7 linked regions of the Homo sapiens genome follow. The protein of the gene in region 3 purifies or fractionates together with the protein of the main gene of each other region. This does not show direct contact. Each region holds a gene or a part of one and is shown on either strand. Other genes may lie near its edges.

What was found.
Region 1: the proteins of TCP10L (region 3) and CCDC6 purify together in Homo sapiens (affinity purification with mass spectrometry; 2 studies listed by BioGRID and IntAct, with this or other methods). This does not show direct contact.
Region 2: the proteins of TCP10L (region 3) and KIF2C purify together in Homo sapiens (affinity purification with mass spectrometry; 2 studies listed by BioGRID and IntAct, with this or other methods). This does not show direct contact.
Region 4: the proteins of TCP10L (region 3) and KIF20B purify together in Homo sapiens (co-immunoprecipitation; 3 studies listed by BioGRID and IntAct, with this or other methods). This does not show direct contact.
Region 5: the proteins of TCP10L (region 3) and CLTCL1 purify together in Homo sapiens (affinity purification with mass spectrometry; 2 studies listed by BioGRID and IntAct, with this or other methods). This does not show direct contact.
Region 6: the proteins of TCP10L (region 3) and HOMER1 purify together in Homo sapiens (affinity purification with mass spectrometry; 2 studies listed by BioGRID and IntAct, with this or other methods). This does not show direct contact.
Region 7: the proteins of TCP10L (region 3) and NIN purify together in Homo sapiens (co-immunoprecipitation; 3 studies listed by BioGRID and IntAct, with this or other methods). This does not show direct contact.

The regions. Positions count from the first base shown.
Region 1 is NC_000010.11:59,795,057-59,798,556, forward strand, and holds part of CCDC6 (coiled-coil domain-containing protein 6), read right to left. Parts: intron 1-3,500.
Region 2 is NC_000001.11:44,742,837-44,746,336, reverse strand, and holds part of KIF2C (kinesin-like protein KIF2C), read right to left. Parts: intron 1-3,500. UniProt on the Homo sapiens protein: In complex with KIF18B, constitutes the major microtubule plus-end depolymerizing activity in mitotic cells. Regulates the turnover of microtubules at the kinetochore and functions in chromosome segregation during mitosis.
Region 3 is NC_000021.9:32,579,024-32,582,523, forward strand, and holds part of TCP10L (T-complex protein 10A homolog 1), read right to left. Parts: intron 3,393-3,500; coding exon 3,177-3,392; intron 1-3,176. Other genes in the region: CFAP298-TCP10L (uncharacterized protein LOC110091775), read right to left, coding at 3,177-3,392. UniProt on the Homo sapiens protein: May be involved in transcriptional regulation. Has in vitro transcription inhibition activity. Acts as a tumor suppressor in hepatocellular carcinoma (HCC) cells.
Region 4 is NC_000010.11:89,767,590-89,771,089, reverse strand, and holds part of KIF20B (kinesin-like protein KIF20B), read right to left. Parts: intron 2,801-3,500; coding exon 2,699-2,800; intron 2,353-2,698; coding exon 2,202-2,352; intron 1-2,201. UniProt on the Homo sapiens protein: Plus-end-directed motor enzyme that is required for completion of cytokinesis. Required for proper midbody organization and abscission in polarized cortical stem cells.
Region 5 is NC_000022.11:19,236,220-19,239,719, forward strand, and holds part of CLTCL1 (clathrin heavy chain 2), read right to left. Parts: intron 3,170-3,500; coding exon 3,056-3,169; intron 1-3,055. UniProt on the Homo sapiens protein: Clathrin is the major protein of the polyhedral coat of coated pits and vesicles. Two different adapter protein complexes link the clathrin lattice either to the plasma membrane or to the trans-Golgi network.
Region 6 is NC_000005.10:79,507,635-79,511,134, forward strand, and holds part of HOMER1 (homer protein homolog 1), read right to left. Parts: intron 3,384-3,500; exon of another isoform or gene 2,753-3,383; intron 1-2,752. UniProt on the Homo sapiens protein: Postsynaptic density scaffolding protein. Binds and cross-links cytoplasmic regions of GRM1, GRM5, ITPR1, DNM3, RYR1, RYR2, SHANK1 and SHANK3.
Region 7 is NC_000014.9:50,758,163-50,761,662, forward strand, and holds part of NIN (ninein), read right to left. Parts: intron 2,198-3,500; coding exon 1,695-2,197; intron 469-1,694; coding exon 1-468. UniProt on the Homo sapiens protein: Centrosomal protein required in the positioning and anchorage of the microtubule minus-end in epithelial cells. May also act as a centrosome maturation factor.

The sequences.
Region 1 (3,500 bases), on a different chromosome or scaffold from region 3:
GATTTCTTGGATATGACATAGGCAACAAAAAAAAAAAGCAAAAACAAATACGTGGGACTACATTCAACTAAAAAGTGTCTGCGCTAAGGAAACTTTCAGTCAACAGACTGAAAAGGCAACCTATAGAATGGGAGGAGATATTTGCAAACCATATACCTGGTATGGGGTGAATATGCGAAATACATAAGTAACTCCTATGACTCAAAGCAAACAAACACACTCAAATAGTCCAATGAAAAAATGCACAGAGAACTTGAATACACATTTCTCTAAAAAAGATACACAAATGTGCTAATAGATATATGAAAAGACGATTATCACCACTAACCATCAGGGAAATGCAAATCAAAACCACAGTGAGATATCACCTCATAACTGTTAAGTTGGCCATTATTATTTTTTTTCTTATTCATTTTTATTATTATTATTATTATACTTTAAGTTTTAGGGTACATGTGCACAATGTGCAGGTTAGTTACATATGTATACATGTGCCATGCTGGTGTGCTGCACCCATTAACTCGTTATTTAGCATTAGGTATATCTCCTAATGTTATGCCTCTCCCCTCCCCCCACCCCACAACAGTCCCTAGAGTGTGATGTTATTCCCCTTCCTGTGTCCATGTGTTCTCATTGTTCAATTCCCACCTATGAGTCAGAACATGTGGTGTTTCGTTTTTTGTCCTTGCGATAGTTTACTGAGAATGATGATTTCCAATTTCATCCATGTCTCTACAAAGGACATGAACTCATCATTTCTTATGGCTGCATAGTATTCCATGGTGTATATGTGCCACATTTTCTTAATCCAGTCTATCGTTGTTGGACATTTGGGTTGGTTCCAAGTCTTTGCTATTGTGAATAGTGCCACAATAAACATACCTGTGCATGTGTCTTTATAGCAGCATGATTTGTAGTCCTTTGGGTATATACCCAGTAATGGGATGGCTGGGTCAAATGGTATTTCTAGTTCTAGATCCCTGAGGAATCACCACACTGACTTTCACAATGGTTGAAATAGTTTACAGTCCCACCAACAGTGTAAAAGTGTTCCTCTTTCTCCACATCCTCTCCAGCACCTGTTGTTTCCTGACTTTTTAATGATTGCCATTCTAACTGGTGTAAGATGGTATCTCACTGTGGTTTTGATTTGCATTTCTCTGATGGCCAGTGATGGTGAGCATTTTTTCATGTGTTTTTTGGCTGCATAAATGTCTTCTTTTGAGAAGTGTCTGTTCATGTCCTTCGCCCACTTTTTGATGGGGTTGTTTTTTTCTTGTAAATTTGTTTGAGTTCATTGTAGATTCTGGATATTAGCCCTTTGTCAGATGAGTAGGTTGCAAAAATTTTCTCCCAATTTGTAGGTTGTATAAAAGAAAAAAAAAGGTAACAAGTGGTGGTGAGGATACGGAGAAAAAATCCTTATACACTGTTGGTAGGAATGTAAAATGGTGCATCCACTATGGAAATCAGTATGAAAATGCCTCAAAAGATTAAAACTAGAAGTACCACATGATCTAGCAATCCCACTTCTGGGTATTTATACAAAATAATTGAAATCAGGATCTCAAAGAGATATTAGCACTCCCATATTCACTACAGTGTTATTCACAATAGCAAAAATGTGGAGGCCTGGAGCGGTGGCTCACGCCTGTAATCCCAGCACTTTGGGAGGCTGAGGCAGGCAGGTCACAAGGTCAGGAGATCGAGACCATCTTGGCTAACATGGTGAAACCCCGTCTCTACTAAAAAAAATACAAAAAAATTAGCTGGGCATGGTGGCGGGTGCCTGTAGTCCTAGCTATTCGGGAGTCTGAGGCAGGAGAATGGCATGAACTCGGGAGGCGGAGCTTGCAGTGAGCTGAGATCGTGCCACTGCACTCCAGCCTGGGCGACAGAGCCAGATTCCATCTCAAAAAAAAAAAAAAAAAATGTGGAAACAACCTCACTGTCCATCAACGGATGAGCAGATAAAGAAAATGTGATATATATAGACATATAAAGGAATATTCAGTCTAAAAGGAGAAAATCCTGCCATATGCAACAACATATATTAACCTCGAGAATATTATGCTAAGTGAAATAAGCCAGTCACAGAAGGACAAATCCTGCCTGGTTCCACTTATATGAGGAGTTTAAATAGCCAATCTCATAGACACAGAGTAGAATGGCGGTGAACTGCTGCTCAACAGCCATCAAGTTTCAGTTAAGCAAAACGAATAAACTACAGAGAGTTGCTGCACAACATTATACTACAGTTAACAGTACTGTATTGTATTCTTAAAAATAAGAGGATAGATCTTATATTGAGAGGTCTCACCACAATAATGATTTTTTTAAGTCAAACCCTGTCAGGAATTCAACTGAGATTCAGGAAAGCAAAAGACATGAGAAAGAACAAGAATAAAGTGGAGAAAATCGAGCAAAGGAGTAAATATCAAATGCAAGAAAACCAGAAATGTCAAAAGATGTATCAACAATTGACCAAACTGGAGATAGATATTAAGTAGCCAATGAACTGAACCTCCTAGCAAAAAAAAAAAAAAAAAAAAAAAAAAAAAATCAACAAGAAGAAGACAGGGAGAGTGTGGGCATGAGTGAGTGAGAGAGAGAGAGAGTGAGAGTGTTGTGTGTGTGTGTGTGTGTGTGTGTGTCTCAGCCATAACAGCAAACAAAACCACTGGGAATATCACGACTTGAGAATATTCAATACAAGGAATGAAAGCCCTGCCAATGTTCCCTAAAAGAACCTGGTATTTAAGGAAGAAACAATCCCCAGTCCAATATAATGTTCTGTGTAGTCTTCATGTAGGAGTCCAGGATCATCTCCACTGTGTTTTAACATCTGTATGTCCAGACTCTCCTTACTGTTAGACAGGTTTGGATTGGGGTCCATATTTTGAGAACATCTAAAAGCGATCCTCACCTACATGTGGCATGTGAAGCCCTGCTCGTCAAGAGTCAGTGCAGAAGTCACCAGCCGGTCTGGGGAATTACTTGTTTTATCACTGCACAAATGTGGCTAGCTTTCTTTACACCTTTGAGTTCCCAACATCTACCACAATACCTTGCACAGGGTAGGTTCCATACTGGCAAAGTGAAAAGGGAAAACAGAGGAGCTGTCTGGGGAAATGTGGATAGGAATCACCTATTGACAATTACTCTGAACATACTATCAGCTATTAGAGGCCAAGCAATGTGAACTCCACTTACTGCTTTTCTGAATTACGTAAAAACAAGAAGCTGTTAAGTATGCTCTTCCATCTGTCTTTTTTGTTTCCATGACAGAGATATTCAGCCAAGCCTTCCTTTAGTTGTGCTATTATCGCAGGACTTTTCTGTGCCCTCAGCATCTAATACTAAAAGTTTATTTTGTGATTTGACTATGAATTAGTGATGCTTTCTATTTGACATATTTCCATTTCCAATTGTGGAGTTTTTATTCACATTTACAAAATGGAGGTCTGGGATAAAGGACAAGTCTTTGGGAACTAAGTGGT
Region 2 (3,500 bases), on a different chromosome or scaffold from region 3:
GTCCTGCAATTCTCCAGGAACAACTCAAACTTCACCAGGATAGCTTTACAACAGGTTCAGACATATTAAATTTGTCCCAACTTTGTATTTCAAAATGTGACAGAGCTGAAGCATGTACTCTAGGGTGAGGGCTTTACTGCCTAGAGATGAAACCTGCAGGACTGGGTGCGGTGGCTCACGCCTGTAACCCCAGCACTTTGGGAGGCCGAGGTGGGCGGATTACCTGACCTCAGGAGTTCAAGGCCAGCCTGGGCAACACGGTGAAACCCCTGTCTCTACTAAAATACAAAAAGTTGGCTGGGTGTGGCAGCGTGCACCTGTAATCCCAGCTACTCAGGAGCCTGAGGCAGGAGAATGGCGTGAACCCAGGAGGCGGAGCTTGCAGTGAGCCGAGATCCCGCCACTGCACTCCAGCCTGGGCGACACAGCGAGACTCCGTCTCAAAAAAAAAAGAAAAAGAAAAAAGAAATCTGCAGTTATTTGCTGCCTATTCAAACATTTGTTAGGCACCACGAAGACAGCAGCCTACAGGGGGAAGGTAGTCAAAGATGAATTAAGACATATATAGGCCGGGCGTGGTGGCTCACGTCTGTAATCCCAGCACTTTGGGAGGCTGAGACAGGCAGATCACCTGAGGTCGGGAGTTCAAGACCAGCCTGACCAACATGGAAAAACCCCGTCTCTACTAAAAATAAAAAATTAGCCAGGTGTGATGCATGCCTGTAATCTCAGCTACTCGGGAGGCTGAGGCAGAAGAATCGCTTGAACCCGGGAGGCGGAGGTTGCAGTAAGCCAAGATAGCGCCATCACACTCCAGCCTGGGCAACAAGAGCGAAACACTGTCTCAAAAAAAAAAAAAAAAAAAAAAAAAAGACATATACAACCCCTGCCACCATGAGCTCAATTTCTAATGGGGATTATAAGTCATATGTACAAAGGAAATCAAAGCAGAATGAGATTTAAATAAAAAAAAAAAAAGGAGGATAGAATCACTAAATGCAAAAGCTGGCAAGCACTTCAGTAATCACACTTCTATCCACACTTCTGGGACAGCCACAGACTCTTGGTACATACCTCCCCCATTTCTAACCCCTAAACTACAGAGAGCATAAACAACAAAGAAAACCAGAGGTTTTTTTTTTTTTTTGAGATGGAGTTTCACTCTTGGTGCCCAGGCTGGAGTGCAGTGGCATGATCTCGGCTCACTGGAACCTCCGCCTCCCAGGTTCAAGTGATTCTCCTGCCTCAGCCTCCTGAGTAGCTGAGATTACAGGCATGCGCCACCATGTCCAGCTAATTTTGTATTTTTAGTAGAGACAGGGTTTTACCACGTTGGCCAGGCTGGTCTTGAGCTCCTGACCTCAGGTGATCCGTCCACCTCAGCCTCCCAAAGTGCTGGGATTACAGGCATGAGCCACCACGCCCGGCCTTTTTTAGACGGAATCTCACTCTGTCGCCCAGGCTGCTGGAGTGCAATGGCGCGATCTCAGCTCGCTGCAACCTCCACCTCCCGGGTTCAAGCGATTCTTCCGCCTCAGCCTCCTGAGTAGCTGGGACTACAGGTGCGCACCACCACATCCGGCTAAGTTTTTGGATTTTTAGTAGAGATGCAGGTTCACTATATTGGCCAGGCTGGTCTTGAACTCCTGACCTCATGATCCGCCCGCTTCAGCTTCCCAGAGTGCTGGGATTACAAGTGTGAGCCACCACGACCCGCGAAAACCAGAGTTTTAAGCCTTGCTCTGACAATCAACTGATTCTCATGTTGATAATTCAGGGTGAACATCCCAGGAGAAAGGAATAAGAGTGTAAAGGCAGCAGGGAATTAGGCAGTCACAGAGCAGTAAACTGCCTCATTTGCCAGGGCATAGGATATGTGGAAGAAGAGTATGTGGTACAAAGAAAAAGGGTGATTAGAATCAGAGCTTGAGCCACATGTGGTGGCTCATGCCTGTAATCCCAGCACTTTAGGAGGCCAAGATGGCCAGATCACTTGAGGTCAGGAGTTTGAGACCAGCCTGGTCAACATGGGGAAACCCTGTCTCTACTAAAAATACAAAAATTAGCTGGGTGTGGTGGCAGGTGCCTGTAATCCCAGCTACTTGGGAGACTGAGTGAGGAGAATTGCTTGAACCTGGGGCATGGAGGTTGTAGTGAGCCGAAATCGGCTCACTGAGGGAGATCGTGCCACTGCACTCCAGCCTGGCGATAGAGTGAGACTTTGTCTCAAAAAACAAACAAACAAACAAAAAAAAAAACCAGAGCTTGAAAAGGCTCTGAATGCCCCACTAAGAAGTTCGGATCTTATTCCAAAAGCAGTATTTGATCTGAGGTAAAACAAGGGATATATTTCTAAACAAGCAACAAAAACAAATCACAAAAGACTGATAATAGCTGGTTGAAAGGAATTTTAGGAACCTCTTAATTCTTTAGGGGCAGATAATGGAAAGTATTCAATCCTTTTATTTCTCAAATATACCACCTAAATATCTCTACTATACGTACTATGCTAAGCAAGCTTTTTACATGTTTTATCTTTTTTATTTATTTGTTTTTGAGACAGGGTCTCACTCTGTCACCCAGGCTGGAGTGTAGTGGCTCACTGTAGCCCTGAACTCCTGGGCTCAAGCAATCCTCCTGCCTTAGCCTCTGGAGTAGCTGGGACCACAGGCGCAAGCCACTATGACTGGCTAATTGTTTTTTATTTTTAGTAGAGATGAGGTCTTGCTGTATTTGCCCAGGATGGACTCAAACTCCTGGCCTCAAGAGGTCCTCCTGCCTCAGCCTCCCAAAGTGCTGAGATTACAGGTACTGTGCCCAGCTACATGTATTATTTTATTAAGCTCCATGGAAGAGAGTCCAAGAGTCTGTCTCCTTCACCTCTGTATCCCTAGCACCCAATAAGTGTCTAGCATTTTGGAAGCAGTCCAAAAAATGTGCTGAGTAAATCCTCACAACAACCCTGTGAGGTAGACATTATTATCATCCTCACTTTATAGATGAGGAAACTAAACTTCGAAGAGGGGCAGAAACATGCCTGAGAACACAAAGCAGTGGCAGAGCCAGACTAGAATCCAGGTTTTCATACTCCTAGCCCAGTGACCTTTTCACTACACCACAATGCCACTAGAACAGAAATGTCTTAGTCACAGTGCTCTCCTCAAAATCCTTCCAAGGTTCCCCACTGCCTACAGAAGAAAACCTAACCAGCTCAGTGCCAGACATGAAGACCTTTGTCTCCTTTTTCAGCTGTTTTGCGGCTGCCAAGCATCCTGGGCCCTGCACTGCTCGTGGCCAGCTTCTTCATGGTCCCCATGTGTGCCATCTTGCTGCTTCAGCTAAGCCTTCACACTCCACCCTCTAAGCCCAGCCCATTCTCAGCAAGTTTCCACCTCTGAGCTGCTCTAGCAATGCTCATCTGTGCCATTCATCACAAGTTGTCTTCTGTTAGTTGGTTAGTTGGTGATTCAGAAACGTCTTTTTGTCTCCTCAACCAGGTT
Region 3 (3,500 bases):
GTGGAGCCGATGTTTGCTTTGTGTTTCTTATTGTGGTTCCTTGTTTCAAAATGATCACAGGATCCCAAAGGCTACAGAACAAACAATCCCCAACATATCTTCCTTTAGGCTCCTGTGTCTTCAACCGGGAGTGTGTTAACGGAGGAAGAAAATGTGATACTACTTCTAGTGTTGTCTCTACAACTTGTCTAAGATCCAAAATGCAAATTCCCAACTTTCCCTGTTATCAGCAGACTGACCTGGAACAGGGTGATCCTTCAGGTGGGATGAGGTATATTAGGTCTGGAATGCTAAATTATTCACCGTTCTGCCCTCTGAGGAGGAGAAGGGAATGAGAAGGGGAGAGGGTTGCTATGAACGAACCCTTAATATCAGATCCAGAGTGGCTCACCCACACAGCCATGCCCGCGTTCTGTGGGTGCTCGAGTCTCAGCCTTTTAGATATTCAGTCCCTAAAACGGCGACTACACACAGATACACCTTCGCATATTTAAAGTGTGGGATTCACATATCCCATCCTGTTTCTTCAAATCAGGTATGCTCTTGTGAGCGTACATCCTGTTCTTATAAATAGCCCCACGGTGACCAGTGCAATGCACAGAATGGAAAAATATTTGGAAATTCACCAAGCTCTAATCTCAAAATAAGAGAATGATCAAAACTGCAGGGCATGTGAAGACTGAATAAGACTTCATTGACTCTTAGGGTAATTGTTATACAATGACCCAAATGGGGCAGTAGATACTATTTTTTAGGAACTGGCATACAATATATGTAGGGAAAAAAATCCCTGTGAGTCTTCTTGGGTTCTCCCCACAGAAGGTGGACAATCCCGGCCAGTATTTGTGGCAATTTCCCCCACTCTTCCTCTGACAGAGGAACAGCCTGCCCAGCTTCTGCTCTTCCTTCCGCAGAAGGACTCGGCGCTTTGCTGTGCTGAGAGGCTAAACTCACTTTCTTTCTGAGGCAGCAGAAGCCATCTCCATGGAAACAAAGCTCTCGCAGAGCTCCCGAAGAGTGGGAATAACTTCCAAGATTTCCCGTAATTTCTTGTAGAGGAACTTGTGGCAGTTTTTTTTGTTTGTTTGTTTTGTTTTTTTCAGACGGAGTCTTGCTCTGTCCCCCAGGCTGGAGTGCAGTGGCGCGATCTCGGCTCACTGCAAGCTCCACCTCCCTGATTCAGGCCATTCTCCAGCCTCAGCCTCCCGAGTAGCTGGGACTATAGGCACCCGCCACCACACCTGGCTAATGTTTTTGTATTTTTAGTAGAGACGGGGTTTCACCGTGTTAGCCAGGATGGTCTCAATCTCCTGACCTCACGATCCACCTGCCTCGGCCTCCCAAAGTGCTGGGATTACAGGTGTGAGCCACCGCGCCCAGCTGTGGCTGTTTTTGCTGTGCTTGGAGAACAAACCACAGAGCAGTCTCCTCTGGAATGTATTCGGTGGGTGCCTGTGTGTGTGTGTGTGTGTGTGTGTGTGTGTGTGTGTGTGTTGTAATCACTGTGCTGTATCGGAAATATTCTAAGTCCTGGAAGTACCGATTTAAAAGTTCACACAATAAATGCAGCTAGGAAATGTTAGTACTTTTCTTAATCCACTAAGAAATATCCCCACTTACGTTTGGAGGGTGTTCATGTGGTTTCATGTGTTGTTACCTGTATGTATAATTTTAATGATTCAAGTTATTTAGATCCATATGCAGGAAACAGAACCCAGACAAGGCAGTGATAACACTGGCCACATTCACACTCTCTTAGGCTGGTTCTTTGAGCGGTGTGATCAAACGTGAAAGCTCAGTGTTCTGTAGAGGCAGGCTGGTGCTGGGAGGCACCCACTACTTCAGCATGAGAATGCTGGTTCTTCGTTCGGGATAGAGCAGGTTAGTGATACAGGATGGGGGCAGGAAAGTCCTGGGTGGAGAAGAACGGGGTCCCTGGCTAGGGCTCGACCCCTGGGCCTGTGCCCATGGACCTACGCATTTCTGCTTTTGTGCCCAAATGTTGCATTTCCCAAGACCACCGTGGCCTGCCACACTCCCATCCTATGCCTATAAAAACCCCAAGACCCTAGCGGGCAGAGACCAAGCGGCTGGATGTCGAGAAGAACACACCGGCAGAAGAGCACACCAGCAGACACAGCAGACGCCAGCAGGCCATCGACTGGCGGAATGACACGGAGTTTGCTTGGGGTGGTCAGGGGAGAGCCCGGTCACTGGGCAGCCCAACTCCCAAGGGGAAAACTGCCTTCCCACTCCATCTCCCTTCTGGCTCCCCCATCTGCTGACAGGTATCACCACTCAATAAAAAACCTTGCACCCATCCTCCAAGCCCATGTGTGATCTGATTTTTCAGGTACACCAAGGCAAGAACCCAGGATACAGAAAGCCCTCTGTCCTTGTGATAAGGCAGAGGGTCTAATTGAGCTGATAAACACAAGCTGCCTACGGAGGGGTAAACTGAAAGAGCTCCCGCACTGTAACACACACCCTCTGGGGCTTCAGCTGGAAACATTCACCCCCAGACACTGCCGTGGGGTCAGAGCCCCATAGCCTGCCGGTCTGTACACTCCCCTAGAGGTTTGAGCAGTGGGGAACCAAAGAAGCGAGCCACACCCCCATCGCACACCCTGCGAGGGGGACAAGGGAACTTTTCCCGTTTCAACAGGTCTCTATTGCATTCTACACAGCTGTCCTAGAGGATGAACAGAAGGACACCAGGCTACTGAGCTGGCTCTGGAGTCACCCTGGGTTCAAATCCCAGCTCTACGTTCTCCAGCCCGTGGCCACGATGGGGTTAGTAATAGGATCCATTTCATAGGGTCGTCATAGAGAGTAAGACCGTAAAGCTCCGTACCTAGCCCATGTAAAGTCCACAGTAAGGGTTTGCTGCTGTTGTCCTGAGACATCATGAGATGTCTTAGAATTCTGGACTTGAGACACACGGCCTGGGGGCGGCAATGCTTCTGTCTGCTGGAGTGCCAGGTGAGAGGCCTGATGTATCCAGTTCTTATTAATCATTACTTACGGGAAATGGAGTTGATGGAAAGATAGCAACCCCTCCCACCACCCGGAGCGTGAGTGATACCGCGTCATTCAGCAATAAAGCCCACATCTTTATGGGGACGCTATTTTTACATAACGCAAACGGTACAAAAACATAAATGCGCTTTTGGTACCAGAGTGTGCGATTCTTGCCCCGCGTGTGGGGACGCTGCAGATTTCTTCCTGGCTTTCCACCGCTGCAGCTGCAGAGCTCTCAGCTTTTCTCGGAGCTCCATGTTCTGCTCCCTCAAAGCATCTATATGACTCCGGAGTTTTCCATGAACATCAGCCCACAGAGACTTCTGTCTCCCAAGCTCTTGGTGGAGTCTGATGATCTGCTGCTGTAATGGCTGTTATTGGGAAGAGAACACCAGAAAAACCTCTCAGATGTCACAATGGGCACATTTATCTGCAAAATACTCAAGCCCTCTCTGATGTAAGACCAACACTATTTCTGG
Region 4 (3,500 bases), on a different chromosome or scaffold from region 3:
TCCAGATAAAAGAAAGCACAGGAAAAAGCAAAAGAAATCAATGATATGAAGGTAAGAAAGAAGCTGGCAAATTCTAGGAACTGTCAGAAGTTAGCAGGATTGAAGCTGGCTAGTTATCAAACCGTAGAATAATAAGAGATAGATTGGAGAGAGTCAGAAATCAGGTCATTCAGAAGAATGAGAAATCATTAAAGGATCAGAGGAGTAACATAATTCAATCTGCACTTTGAAAAGAACATTCTGTCATGTATGAATGGATGGGAGATGACAAGAGGGGCAAGCTGGGAGACCAGTGATACTAAGTGATGGATTAACAGTGGTTATCAGAGCAGCAGAATTTTAAAAATTAATCTCCATTTTTTCTTTTCTCTCTATATTTCCAAGTGACCCAAAACAACAAATATGTATTACAGTTACAGTTCAAAATAGGGATATCTTATATTTCTAGAAATAAGTAAAAACAAAAAGAAAAAAGGAAAAAAAAAATGTATGTCAAGTGCATTGGTAGGGAAGCTGTTAAGGAACCAAGTCAATGAAGTAAGAGAATCATTACCCTTATCTGATTACATACTTATTATAGGTACCTACCTCTCCTTGAAAATATATTTCTTTTTAATATAAAAGTGGTAGTAAGCCTAAAGGACTCTAAAGAAAGATGTCCCTCCTCTCCAAATTTAGATATTTAACAGTTTGCTGTTTGTCCCTCCAGATATTTTCTGTTTATACAAACACATTTTTTAAATGTACATATTTTTTTAAATGTATGTAAATATACAAATGGGTCTGATAGGTCAGAAGTTCCCAAACTGTGTACTAAGGCATGCTGCAGCAAACTTACAGAAGCACCTCAGGATATTTTCAATCTTCAGGGAAAATAGTGATGCTCAATAGCCCAAGGTAGTTCAATTTCAAAACGATACTGAATTACATTTCTTTTCATTATGACATTATCTTTGCAATCTGGATTTTCAGAAGCTGAATTTTCAGTGGTTGTTTGGTCTTAAGTTCTAATGCATGAGACTACTAGTGGTTCTTTGGGTGCAGAGGCAAAATGGAAATTAATTACTGAGACATTAAGGGCACTGTGAACCAACAAAGTTTGGAAACGTCTGTGGTAAGCCTTCGACAAAAAGTATTTTCACACAACATATTTGATTCAATTTAACTGCCCCCTGCTTCTAGTTCCTTTCCTTCCCTATACCCCTCACTCTGGTCTCTAATTCATCCTATTGCTGTCATTCAGGTAACCTCACAAAAACCCACTACTCCATCTCACCCCTAAGATAGTCCTTCCACATTCTACATGCCAGATGTGTATTGCTGCCTGTAATTGCATGAACATTTCCTACATTTTTCTGATACTCCACCTGTGTTAAAACCATTCCTTCCGCATATGTGCACACATGTGTATATATCTTAACATATACACAGGTATCAATATGTCCACATTATATTATCAAGAAAAAAAGCACTAAGCATACTGTTTCTGCAGCTAAACTCAATAGGTATTTATGAAAATAATGTGTTTTTGACATATTGTACATAAACAGATAATGTTTACATATGCACAGAAAAAAAAACACTAGGAGGATATATACCATAATACTAATACTGGCAAACTTGTCCAACCCACCTTATTTTGTTGTTGTTTTTGTTCTGTTTTGTTTTGTTTTGTTTTGTTTTAGGCTTTTAGCGGCCTGAAGCCATGGTTTTTAGTTTCTGTCTCTAGTGATAAGCAGAAAACAGGGATGAGGAAGGGGATTTCCTGCCCCAACCAAAAACAGAAACTAAGAACCCATGACTGTATTCTCACCCTTGGACACCCTAGAGAGTGTACTCCTGCCCACATTTCAATACACAGGATAAATCCCATCTCTCCCATAAAAACCTTCCCAAAGCCCCCTAATCAGAGTAGCTCTTTTCCCTCCAATACTATCATACCTTTGCTTATACCCCTATTACTATATTAAGTAGCCTGCTCTGGATCAGTTACTTAAATACAAGCCTTTCTCTTCTACTACATAGCGAACACCTAGATCTATCATCCTTTTACATGTTTCTTCCCACAGTACCTAGTATAGGACAATGCCTATTTGAAGTATAATATTCCCTGAACAGCTGTTGAGTTTATATATCAATTAGGTATTAAAATATACCCAACATCTAACAAAAAAAGGTCATTTAATTAATTTTCTGCAAACCTTTTGATTGAAGAATTGAGGGAGAATGTTGTAAGAAGTCTCCAAATTTCTGTAGTGTTCCTTCTTTTTTCTTAGTGGCCAGGTTTACACCAATTATGGATGCCTGACTCCGTAAAGAATATGTTTTCTTAGATGATGGACGTATGGCAACCTAATAAACAAAACATTTTTTGTTATTGTTGATGAGAAGTGTTAGAAGGAAATAGTTATGGCCACAGCTGAATTAAAGAGGCCAGAGACAGGTTATGAATTCTCAGGTAGGAAACTTTAAGTATGTAAGGACAGGGATAAAAGGGTCAGACAATGGCAAAAAGAGTTTGACAGGCAGAGTGTTAAAGTCAGAAGTAAACACATAAAGTAGATGCTACTGGCCAAATGCTAAAGGTTACATTTCAACTGAATCAGATGTATAGGAAAGAGAAGATAAATGAGTTATAATTGAACACAACTGGATTTCTGGATAATTGCTACAATTTTGGACAAATTAAAAGACACACCTTTTGTTCCTTTTTGACAGAAGAATTTCTATCATCTGAAATAGGAAATTTCAAATTAGTTCTGGGTGTAGCATTCTTCTTATTTTCACATTTCACCAAGTCCTAAAAATAATGAATTTTAGCACCAGTTAATTTCTTGACAATATTTTATTTCTCTAGACTCAAAAAAGAAAATTTGTAAAAAGCTACATTATCACTTAAAACAGTGACTCTTAACCGAGGGCAATTTTGAACTCAGAGGACAATGGCAATGTTTGAAGATATTTTTGGTTGTCTTTGCCAGGGAGAAGGGGATATTATTGGCCACGAGTGGGTAGAGGTCAGGAATGCTGTTAAACATCCCTACAATGCACAGGATAGATAGCCCTTAAAACAAAGAGGTATACAGCCCACAATGTCAACTGTGCTGGAGTTGAGAAACCCTGACTGAAGGTGTGAATTTTTCAAACATATCACAAGTAATGAAATTACATAAGCTAAATGAAAAACATGGAAGGAATATCTTTTATTTGAAACTGAGCTTTAAAATACAGCATACAATATACCTACCTATTGCCTAACTCCCAAATAATACAAGCATCTATGTCTAAGTTCTCTCATTGACATTTGACAATATCAAAAATAAAATAAAAACGAAACTTCAAATAACCAAAGGTAAAATGTTAAAACTTTTAAAATATTATCTTTCTTCTCTACAACATGGGTATGGCATCTTACTCTTCTTTTCCCCAAATAACCTCACATAGGACAAAGCCCTTTACAGATATACTCACTGACTTGAACTGCTGCAAATCCTAGTTGT
Region 5 (3,500 bases), on a different chromosome or scaffold from region 3:
AGTTTTAAAGACAATATTTTGTCCAACCACTCTCAAATAAAGGTCCAATAAACTCAGGCTACTCCATTTATCTTTCAGGTAGAGCGATCCTTTCACAGTTTATCGAACCCCTTTAAGCAAGCTGTGAGTTCATAAGAGAAGGGGAAAGTTCTGGACAAAGACCTCAAACGCCAAGATGATGTTCCAGCATGCCTTCTACCACCACTTATTAACCTTTGAGTTTTGCCAAATGCTATTAACTTTTACAGAAAAATATTTAACACACAAGAAAACCTGAAGGGGCTGGGGAGAAAAAACAGATGCATTTGCCCAACCAGATTATTAAACATATATATTAAAACAGACAGTAATTTTTGAAGTATGATTTTACCACTGGAAGAGACAGAGAGAGAAAATAATTAAGAGCCCTGAAAGAGAATGAATCATATATGAGAATTTATTAAGAATGAGTGTGTGGTGGCTAATGACTATAGTCCCAGCTACTTGGGAAGCCAAGGCAGGAGGATCACTTGAGCCCAGGAGTTTGAGTCAAACCTGGGCAACGTAGCAAGACTCCAACTCTAGAAAAATAAATAATTAGTAGGTAACATATTAGTGGAAAATAGGCACTTTAATCAATATATAACATATATTATTAATATAGTTAGCTAGCTATCTGGAGATGGAGGTAAGAGTAAAGAACTGAATTTCTATCTTACTCTTTAGATCAAAGTAAATTCCAGATGGGTCAAAGATTTTAAATAAAAAACAAGGACAATTAGGATAGGAATGAAAGAAAATATAGGTAAATGTTGTGATCATCTTCAGGTGCAGAATTAGTCTCAAAACATGATACCACTGCCACACAAAAATGCAGCACTTCCATAAGGTGCCACATATCACAAATTACGACTGGGAAAAATATTCAAAATACATCAGACACTTAGTACTCTACAAGTACAAAAAGCTCTTACGAATAAGGTAAAAATCCTGGAGTTGGGCACAGTGACACACACCTGTAACCCCAGCTGCTTGGGAGGCTGAGGCAGGAAGATCGCTCGAGGCCAGGAGTTCAAGACTGGCCTAGGCAACATAGCAAGACCCCATCTCTACTTTTTAAAAAAAGATCCCAATAGAAAAAAAATGCAAAGATTAGGAAAAGGCAATTAACCGGATACATATGAGTGGCTGATACATCAATTCTGCCTTGATGGTAACCAAGGGAAAGACATCACAACATGGGATGCTGTCCAGCTACCACCGGCAGCATCAGTAGGAATGTGAACTGGCCAGCATGGTCAGGAGAGTCTGTGATGAGAGTGTGCCCCTGACCCAGCAGTTTAATTTCTAGGAATTTATCCTCGGACTTTTAGACTAACATACAAAGATGTATGGAGCACAATGTTCCTTATAGTGTTTCTTGTAAATGTAAATACCAATCAACAGGGGATTGTTTAAATGAGTTGTAGCAAATCCACAGAACAGATGACACAGACAATAAAATACATACATTATGTTACTGGAACAGAATGATCTACAACATAGCTAGAGGAGTTTATACAGCAGCAAGGCTAGTGCAGAGCCATTTTCATAAGAGTCCATCTGTATAAATCTGCACAAATGTATGCATGTTAAGTTACTTCCAAAGGGGTAGCCAAATTATCAGCAGTGCTAGGATTTCAGGTGATATTTAATCCTGCTGTTACATTTATTGATATTATTAGAAATGTACAGATAACATATATTTTATGAGAACAAAAGAGTAAAAAGGAGAGTAGATTATATAATCTTACATATATAATGTGATGCCAATTTTGTTCAGAAAAGGTATAGATCTAAATTTTTTATAAAACAAATTGTAAGATTTTTTATTTTTATTCTTATTTATTTATTTATTTATTTTTTGGAAATGAAGTCTTGCTCCAGGCCGCGGTGCAGTGGCATGCAGTGGTGTGATCTTGCCTCACTGCACTCTCTGCCTCCTGGGTTCTAGAAATTCTCCTGCCTCAGCATCCCATGTAGCTGGGACTACAGGTGCACACCGCCATGCCCAGTTAATTTTTTATATTTTAGTAGAGACGGGGTTTCACCATGTTGCCCAGGCTGGCGTCGAACTCCTGAGCTCAGGCAATCTGCCCGCCTCGGCCTCCCAAAGTGCTAAGATGACAGGTGTGAGCCAACGCGCCCGGCCAAGATTTCTTATATATTTTACATCCAACTGGTTTATCTACAGAGGAATGTTTTCTGACTCTGTGCCTTTGACACTTCCACAACAATATTCTGCTCCTCAATAAGGAAAGCACACTTGATCCTGTCACGAACACACTTAGCACACACGGAACCACCACAGGCCCTGCTGACATGTGTTTCTGTTTTAGGGAACCTCACAAGAACTTCAGGTCTCATAGCACGAACTCCTCGAAGTCTGGCTAGGCACATGCCACATGCAGGTTCAGGTGTTTTCCCAACCTTCTTGATGTAAAGGTGAATAATTCTCCCACCAGGGGCTTGGGACTACCTAGTTTCACTAGAGGCTGCGTGTCAAAGGCTGGGCCATTCTGAATGCCAGCTCAAAGGACTGTCCCTGGGAGCTCTAGGCTCCCTCAATGGCAGCCAATTGTAAAGGAAATAAGTGTTTTATTCTTTTTTTTATTATTATAAGTTCTGGGTTACATGTGCAGAACGTGCAGTTTTGTTACACAGGTATACACGTGCCCTGGTGGTTTGTTGCACCCATTAACCCGTCACCTACATTAGGTATTTTATTCTTTAAATATTCTCATACCACAGTGAACATCTAATCTTTTATAATAAGAAGGAAAGAGCTGAGGACTTTGATGTGTGACTTGGCAACGTCTTCCTGCTGCCCTAACTCACCCTCATGCCGGGCATTCCTTTCTACGAACAGGGCTTTCCCAGCTCACACGCCAAAGCCTTAGGCCTCTAAATGGGTTTGAAAGCATCACAGTGGCAGGAGACAGCAGAAGCAGACTAAAAATGGCAGCCTCCTGTATCTTGGGAGGTGCTAGAGTAGATTTTAGGACATGAAGATGTTTAGAGAGCAGCACATTCGTACCTGCATAGCCACTGGAAAATCATTCTGTGCCTCTGGAGGAAAAAACACATCTACTGCTTTCTTTACAAAAGGTTGGTTTCCCGCTGCAGGCTGTCCAACTTCAATGATGTGCAACTAGAAGAGAGATTTTAGGTCAATCAAGGGGACCGCCTGTGGTGGTGGGCAAGTGCTAGTCAAGGCACAGAGGCAAGTGGAGCCTCAGCTCCACACACTGGATGATTAACGCTAAAAGTCACATTCAACCAAAGCAGAACAACCCCCTTGTCGGAGTGCCTGTGATTATCCAATAACCTGCTGCCCACCACCAAGCATGGCACAAAGGGCCAATGCCAGGCAGCCTGGAGCCTCAGTTCCAGCACAGTGGCAGAGTCACTTCCCCTCCCCGGGCCTGGATGCCGATGAAACAAAGGGCTCCAGTCAGAATCTGCTGTCCCTTCCAACTCTG
Region 6 (3,500 bases), on a different chromosome or scaffold from region 3:
TGTCCAGTTAGTCATATTAATCTGAAATAACAATCCAGTAACTAAAAATAAATACTTCAACTAAACACTAAAGACTGAAAAAAAAAAAAATCACATGGCAGTAGAGAGGTTAGACCTTTTGGGATATAACCACCTTTTCTTCTGAGATGTTTAATCACTCAAAACTATAAACTATGAATAAGGACAGTTTCTTCTGTCAACCCCTTAACTCCCAAATTCACTATTTTATGACCCATAGTTAGTGACTCTGCTAAGAACATACCATGCTCTTTGCTACATTCTTACCTCTCCAATGAAATGTCCTAATTCTGAAAAAGCCCCGTTCAGCCAACTACACATCTCTCAGTCACCATCCCTCCCCTCCCCACTTCGGAACCTTCCAGGGCCTGCCCAACTGTCCACTTCCTCTACCCAGCCAGAGTTCATTGTTCTGGCTTGGTGTTTCCACAGGATACAAGACACAAAACCAAATTGTAAATGATTTTTAAAATTGCTTTCTTATTCTACTTCCCTGATCATGTTCTTACTCTGCTTAAAACCCTTTAGTAATCTTCACACAGAAGAGAAGTGCTTTTCAAATTACCAGTTGCTAACACAGCGTCATTAAATAAATTGAGTGGGTCACCATCATCAGTCTATCTTAAAAATAAAATAGAACGGAACAGAATAGAAACTACCAGAGTGTACCATACAAAGCAAGGGTATTATGTAGTGACATTTTATCATTTATATACAAGCATATTGGGTTGCAATGTAAAGATGCTTATCTTTCCAACGGGTCATAGCCAAAAAAACCTCTAAACACACTAAACTACAGGATAATCCAATCTTTCATTTGATCTACATGGTTCTCCAACCCAGTCCCTGCATAATAAGGCTCTAGACCTATCTCTTGCTACACCAAAGGGAGCTAGCTCAAGCAAACAAGCTTGTCATGCCAAACTCCTTTGCAGTTCCTCGTTTTAGTGGTGTCAATCACTGTTCTCTCTGCCTTGAATGCCCTCTTATTTGTCTAAGAGGCTCACTTGTACTCATCTTTCAGTATTTAACAACTATCACCTCCTCTACAAAGCCTTTTTATCCTTCCCTCAGCAGCTAATGCCCCCCCAACACACACTTTGTGTCTCCATAATGCCCTACATTATAGCTCCTACAAAATTTCATTGCACATTTTAATTTTAGGCTTGACTGTCTGCCCAACTTCCAAAGTATAAACTCACTAAGGGAAGGAGCACATTGTATTGGCCTTCCTATCAGCAGCACTGAGGTAAGTACACGCACTATAACAAAGGTTCAAAGTTGGTAAAATGAACAAATGACGAATTAAGGACTTGCATCTAAGTTGTCTATTGTCAGATATGATAGGGTGGTTATCTTTGCAATAAAACCCATTTATAGTGCTGGATCAAGATTTTCACATTTTTGCTACAACCCCTAGAGAGCAGAACCCTGCAGTTTGAGGCAGAAGGAGGTGTCAGCTTCCCATCTTTCAGCAAAGAGACTCAGTTTGGGCTGCAATGTAGCAGCACTCATTTCCATGCTTCTGGAAGTTATTTGGGGAAAGAGGGGAAGGAAGGACTCCAGAAGTTCCCATAGGCAGGTGAGATAAATCAGAAACAGCATTAACAGATTCCATTAGCAGGGAGAGCCCCATTTTATGTATAAGTAGCTCTTAATAAGGGAAGGGAGGGAAAGAATTCTTTACCATTGCTGATGGCACTAGGTTGCCAAAATGAGCTAAGTAAAAACAAAGGGTTTCATGAAATAAGTGGTTGAAGTTACTTGATTTCTGTTGCCTACTGTGATAGTTCTGAAATAGCTACTGACTCACTGCTGTCATTATGAGATACTATTTGGAGGTGGGGGTGGGGGTCATACCTAACAGGGGCTCCTCACTGAGGCTTCAAAACTTTTCAGAGACTTCATTTTACATACATGAATGCCTTAATTTTTAGGGGATCTGATACACCTATTTTACAAACCCATACTTTAGTTGCCTTCACTGCAATTAACAGTTCATGCAACATCCAAGATACTTTGACAGACTTTGCCAACTGTCAAGTTTCAGCTGTTCTTCTCCATTTCCAAAAAGTTCATAAACTACTATTAGGGGAGCCATAATTTTTTTCTGCCCAATCACTGATTTTATTAAAAATAATTCCTTTGCTTAGACTGCCCCTAGACTTGCAATAATTATCTACAATTAAGACGAAGATAAATCCTTATTATAACCTAACATTAGTTTAAAAAAAGAAGGTTGTAATATGTGAAACACTTTACCCACAGTATTAAATTTTAGATATCTATTACAGTAAGGTAATTATGGATTGCCAAGGTAAAGCTTTAAAAGCCATTTAAAGCCCTGTTTCCTTTTGCTTGAAATAGGTCCAGGCAGCTATGCTAATTCCACAAACATTTATTAGGCATAAATACGCATAAAGTGTGGAAACGTCAGCAAATGCCTTTGCTGTATGCTCTTCTACTTCCATCTACCCTTCCTCTCTCTACTCAAGTCACTATCAATGAGAAAGGGTCATAGCCCCAAATACAGGCTTTCCAAAAAAAAAAAAATAGCACCACAAAATGCTCGCTCCTTTTTCTCCTCAGTCCATATATAGAACTTTATTAACTAAAGGGCAGATACATTCATTTATAAACAAATTAATTATGCTAAGTGTCTAAATGCATGTTATGTGTGGTGCTAACTTTCCCACTTTAAACAACAGCCCCCTTAGTATTAAATTCATCCTGTCTCTTCAGATTCTAGGCGCTTCAGGAGCCGCGCCTTAAGGTGCAGACATGGCCAAGTCCAAGAACCACACCACACACAACCAGTCCCAAAAATGGCACAGAAATGGTATCAAGAAACCCGAAGCACAAAGATACGAATCTCTTAAGGGGGTGGACCCCAAGTTCCTGAGGAACATGCAGTTTGCCAAGAAACACAACAAGAAGGGCCTAAAGAAGATGCAGGCTAACAGTGCCAAGGCCATGAGTGCACATGCCAAGGCTATCAAGGCCCTCCTAAAGCCCAAGGAGGTTAAGCCCAAGATCCCAAAGGGTGTCAGCCGCAAGCTCAACTTGCCTACACTGTCCACCCCAAGCTTGGGAAGCATGCTCGTGCCCGCATTGCCAAGGGGCTCAGGGTGTGCTGGCCAAAGGCCAAGGACAAGGATCAAACCAAGGCCCAGGCTGCAGCTCCAGCTTCAGTTCCAGCTCAGGCTCCCAAAGGTGCCCAGGCCCCTACAGAGGCTTCAGAGTAGATATCTCTATCTGCCAACGTGAGGACAGGACTGGTGCGACCCCCCGCCAGGCTGCCATCTGCATGGGGCTGTGGGGCTGGGGTCCTCCTGTGCTATTTGTACAAAGAAACCTCAGGCAGGGAAAAAAAAATTCATCCTAAGCTTCCCTTGGTAAAATGACAGGCATTCATGCAGCTTAAAGGTTCTGGAAAACTGATTTTCTTCCATGATGCTACTACTCCACAGTCTAGACAAAAT
Region 7 (3,500 bases), on a different chromosome or scaffold from region 3:
CACAGGACCTCCTCACGCTCCCTCAGTTCCCTTTTGTGACTGCTCTTCAGCTCAAGTATCTGGTCAGACAGCAGGCTTTGCTGGGTTTCAGATACATTTCTTAGGTCTTCCAGGTCTTGGAGTAGCTGCTGTCTCTCGACGACCATGCTGTTCAAATGTTCTTTGTATGTTTTCTCCAGCATCTCTCTCTCCTGGGTCAGGACCAGAGAAGTTGTTTTCTCTCTCTTAAGAGTCTCTTTCAGCAGCTCCTGGGCTTCCGCACACTCCTGGGTGAGCTCGTCCTTCTCAAATTCCCACTGGGATTTCTCCTCACGCTGCTGTTCCTGGAGGTCCTTCAGCTCTTGGCGGTAGCGCCCCTCCAGGCTTTGCAGAGCGCTTTCACACCTCTCAGTGACTTTCTGACAATCAGACTGAAACTGGGCTTCTATTTGAGAGGTTCTTCTATTACACTCTGTTTCCATTTTTTCCCTAAATATAGTCAACATACAGCATTATTGAAACTGCCGCCAACTCCAGAAGCAAACAAAAACCATTTTCCCATGCACTGAGAAAGCTGCTGAGCAAACAACTGAAATACTCCCTAAAAATGCTCTTAACTTACTCCTATGTGATTCATTTATACTGGAAAGGGATCTCATTTCTGAAAGCTAAGACTGGCAGCCATAATTCATTTAAAAGACTTACCTCTCTCTGGAGTTAGGGGGAAATCTTAGAAACTAATTTCTCTGGCACACTCCCGGATGTATTTGTTTATGGATTTTTAAACCAAAGACAAATGACCAAATGTATATTAATCTAATTCCTCACTTGGGAAATATATACCATTCCTTCATTTTAATTAAGCATGCGTTATAGGATATCAGTCACATAAATGACACATATGAACAAATTCATTCTGCTTTTGCTTCTTACTTAACGAAGTAGCACCAAGTCAATCAGCGTGTGACGAAACAAAGCCCTCAAATAAACCTGGGATTTCACATGAGGAATGTAAGCATGGAGTGCTGTTTCTTAACTCTGGGAGGAAATGTAACCTTGCCTGGAATCCAGTTTATTAATAGCTTTTCTCAGAAAGCAACAGGATTGAACTAGGAAGGAACCACTTTTGGGATAATCTTATCCTCCTCTTGAGCCTTATAAGGTAGAATAAATCTTAATACGAGGAATACTTTCCTCTTTTACAAACATAACAAAATAAAAACAGTTCCAATCATCCCAAGGTAGGTTCACATCAAAATAATGGCAAAAACAGTAAAAAAATATTTAAAAGAGTCTACTCAATCAATGGGCTATTATGCCTTCTGACTTCTTCAAGTCTCTTAAGCGACTGGCACTTTTTTTTTTTTTTTGAGACGGAGTCTCGCTCTGTCGCCCAGGCTGGAGTGCAGTAGCGCGATCTCGGCTCACTGCAAGCTCCGCCTCCCGGGTTCACGCCATTCTCCTGCCTCAGCCTCCAGAGTAGCTGGGACTACAGGCGCCCGCCACCACGCCCGGCTAATTTTTTGTATTTTTAGTAGAGACGGGGTTTCACCATGTTAGCCAGGTCTCGATCTCCTGACCTCGTGATCCGCCCACCTCGGCCTCCCAGAGTGCTGGGATTACAGGCGTGAGCCACCGCGCCCAGCCACAACTGGCACTTCTAATGCCCCGAGGGATGGTGCCCCAGGTAGCTTCATTTCCCTTCACTTTCTTACCTTCCCTCCTGAAGCTCCCTTTGGTGCTTTTCCAAGAGCTCTTTTCTTAACTCCTCTTTCTCAAGAGTGTGTTTCTCCACCAGGCTTGTCAGCTGCTCCTGGTGAAACTGCTCTAGTTCCTGAGTCAAGCCTCTCACCTTCTCTTCTGTCCAGGCGCTACTCTGAAGGCCTTCCCTCTCCCGCTCAAAGCTTGCTTGAGCCTGTGTCAGTCTAGCCTTGAGCTCCATCTCATGTTGCAGCCTCAGCTTCTCCTGCAGGTGAGTCTTTTCCTCCTCAAGCTTCACTTGCAGTTGTTTTTTCTCCTCCTCATGCCTGCAAGTGGCCTCATGATGTGCCTCCTTGAGCACTGCTGCTTGCCCCTGAAGTTCAGCAATTTCATTTTTAAGGTCACTTATTTGTTTTTCTAAGGTGTGCGTTTCGTTCTCATGCCTTTGCTTCATGTTCTCCTGTGCCTTCTTGCAGCTGACCACGGTTTCGTCCAGCTGCTTTTCATAATGGCGCACCTGAAGGCACAGAGTGACACCACCACAAGATTACTCAGCTCAAGGTCACTGAAAGTGAAGTGATGGAGCAGCAATTGCTTTTTTTTTTTTTTTTTTTTTCCCTACAAGACATTTCTCATTTCTCTATCTTGTTTTAAAGTAACTGAATTCAACACTTTAAGCAAGATACTTAAGTCAGGCATGGTTTACATATCTCTTTTAAGTGGCTGAATTTTATTAGTGTCTGAACAACCTTATTAAGAACTGAGCAGCCATTACACATAGCTACCCTCTGTCTTCCCATGCATCCTTTCCAACTGTAAACTTGAGTCTTGGAACATATATATTTTTTGAGACAGGTTCTCACTCTGTCACCCAAGCTGAAGTGCAGTGGCGTAATTATGGCTCACTGAAATCTCCATCTCCTGGGCTCAAGCAATCCTCCCACCTCAGCCTCCTGAGTAGTTGGGACTAAAGGCACACACCACCGTGCCCTAATTTTTTTTTCTTGGTAGAGACGGGGTCTCACCATGTTGCCCAGACTGGTCTTGAACTCCTAGGCTCAAGTGGTCTGCCCACCTCGACCTCCCAAAATGTTGAGATTACAGGCATGAGCCACTGTACCCTGCTGGGTCTTAAAATACTTAATTAAATTCAAATATTAATTGAACACCTATCAGGTACTTGCAGGCCTCGGAATACAACGCTGGGTAAGATATGGTCCCTGCTATCCAGGAGAAACCAGTCTAGACATGGATATGACAACTATAAGTACAGTAGGAGGCAGAAAATAAAAGGTATACAAAAAAGAGCTACAATGTAACCCAGGGACTCAAAGGAGGGAAAAAAATCACATTTTAGTTGGAGAAATTCAAGAATGGCTTCATGCAAGAGGCAGCATTAAATATAAATCCTGAAGGGTAAGTAGACTTTCGAGAGGCAGAAAGAAACTAATATCAGCATAGTTTGTAACAGCACAAGCAAAAGAGGACAGAGTGTGATGGACAACTAGGAACTACCCAATTTAGCTGGAGGATAAGGTAACTCATAAGAACGGTCAGTTGAAGTCTGGACTGGAAACGTCAGTTGAAGTCTCATGGTGAAGAGTTTAGAGGCCAAGGTTCAGAACTTGTACCTAATTTAGTAGGCAATGAAACATCAAAGGGCTTTTTTTGGTTTCACTGAGATGTTTTTAAAAAAGAAATTGGGAGATAATATAATGGGTTTCAAGCTTCAAGTTCCATGATTGCCAGGGCTGAAGATATTACATTTTGGAGAAACTCTCCAGAAAAAAGGGGCCTTGCTGTCAGCCTACAAAACCATC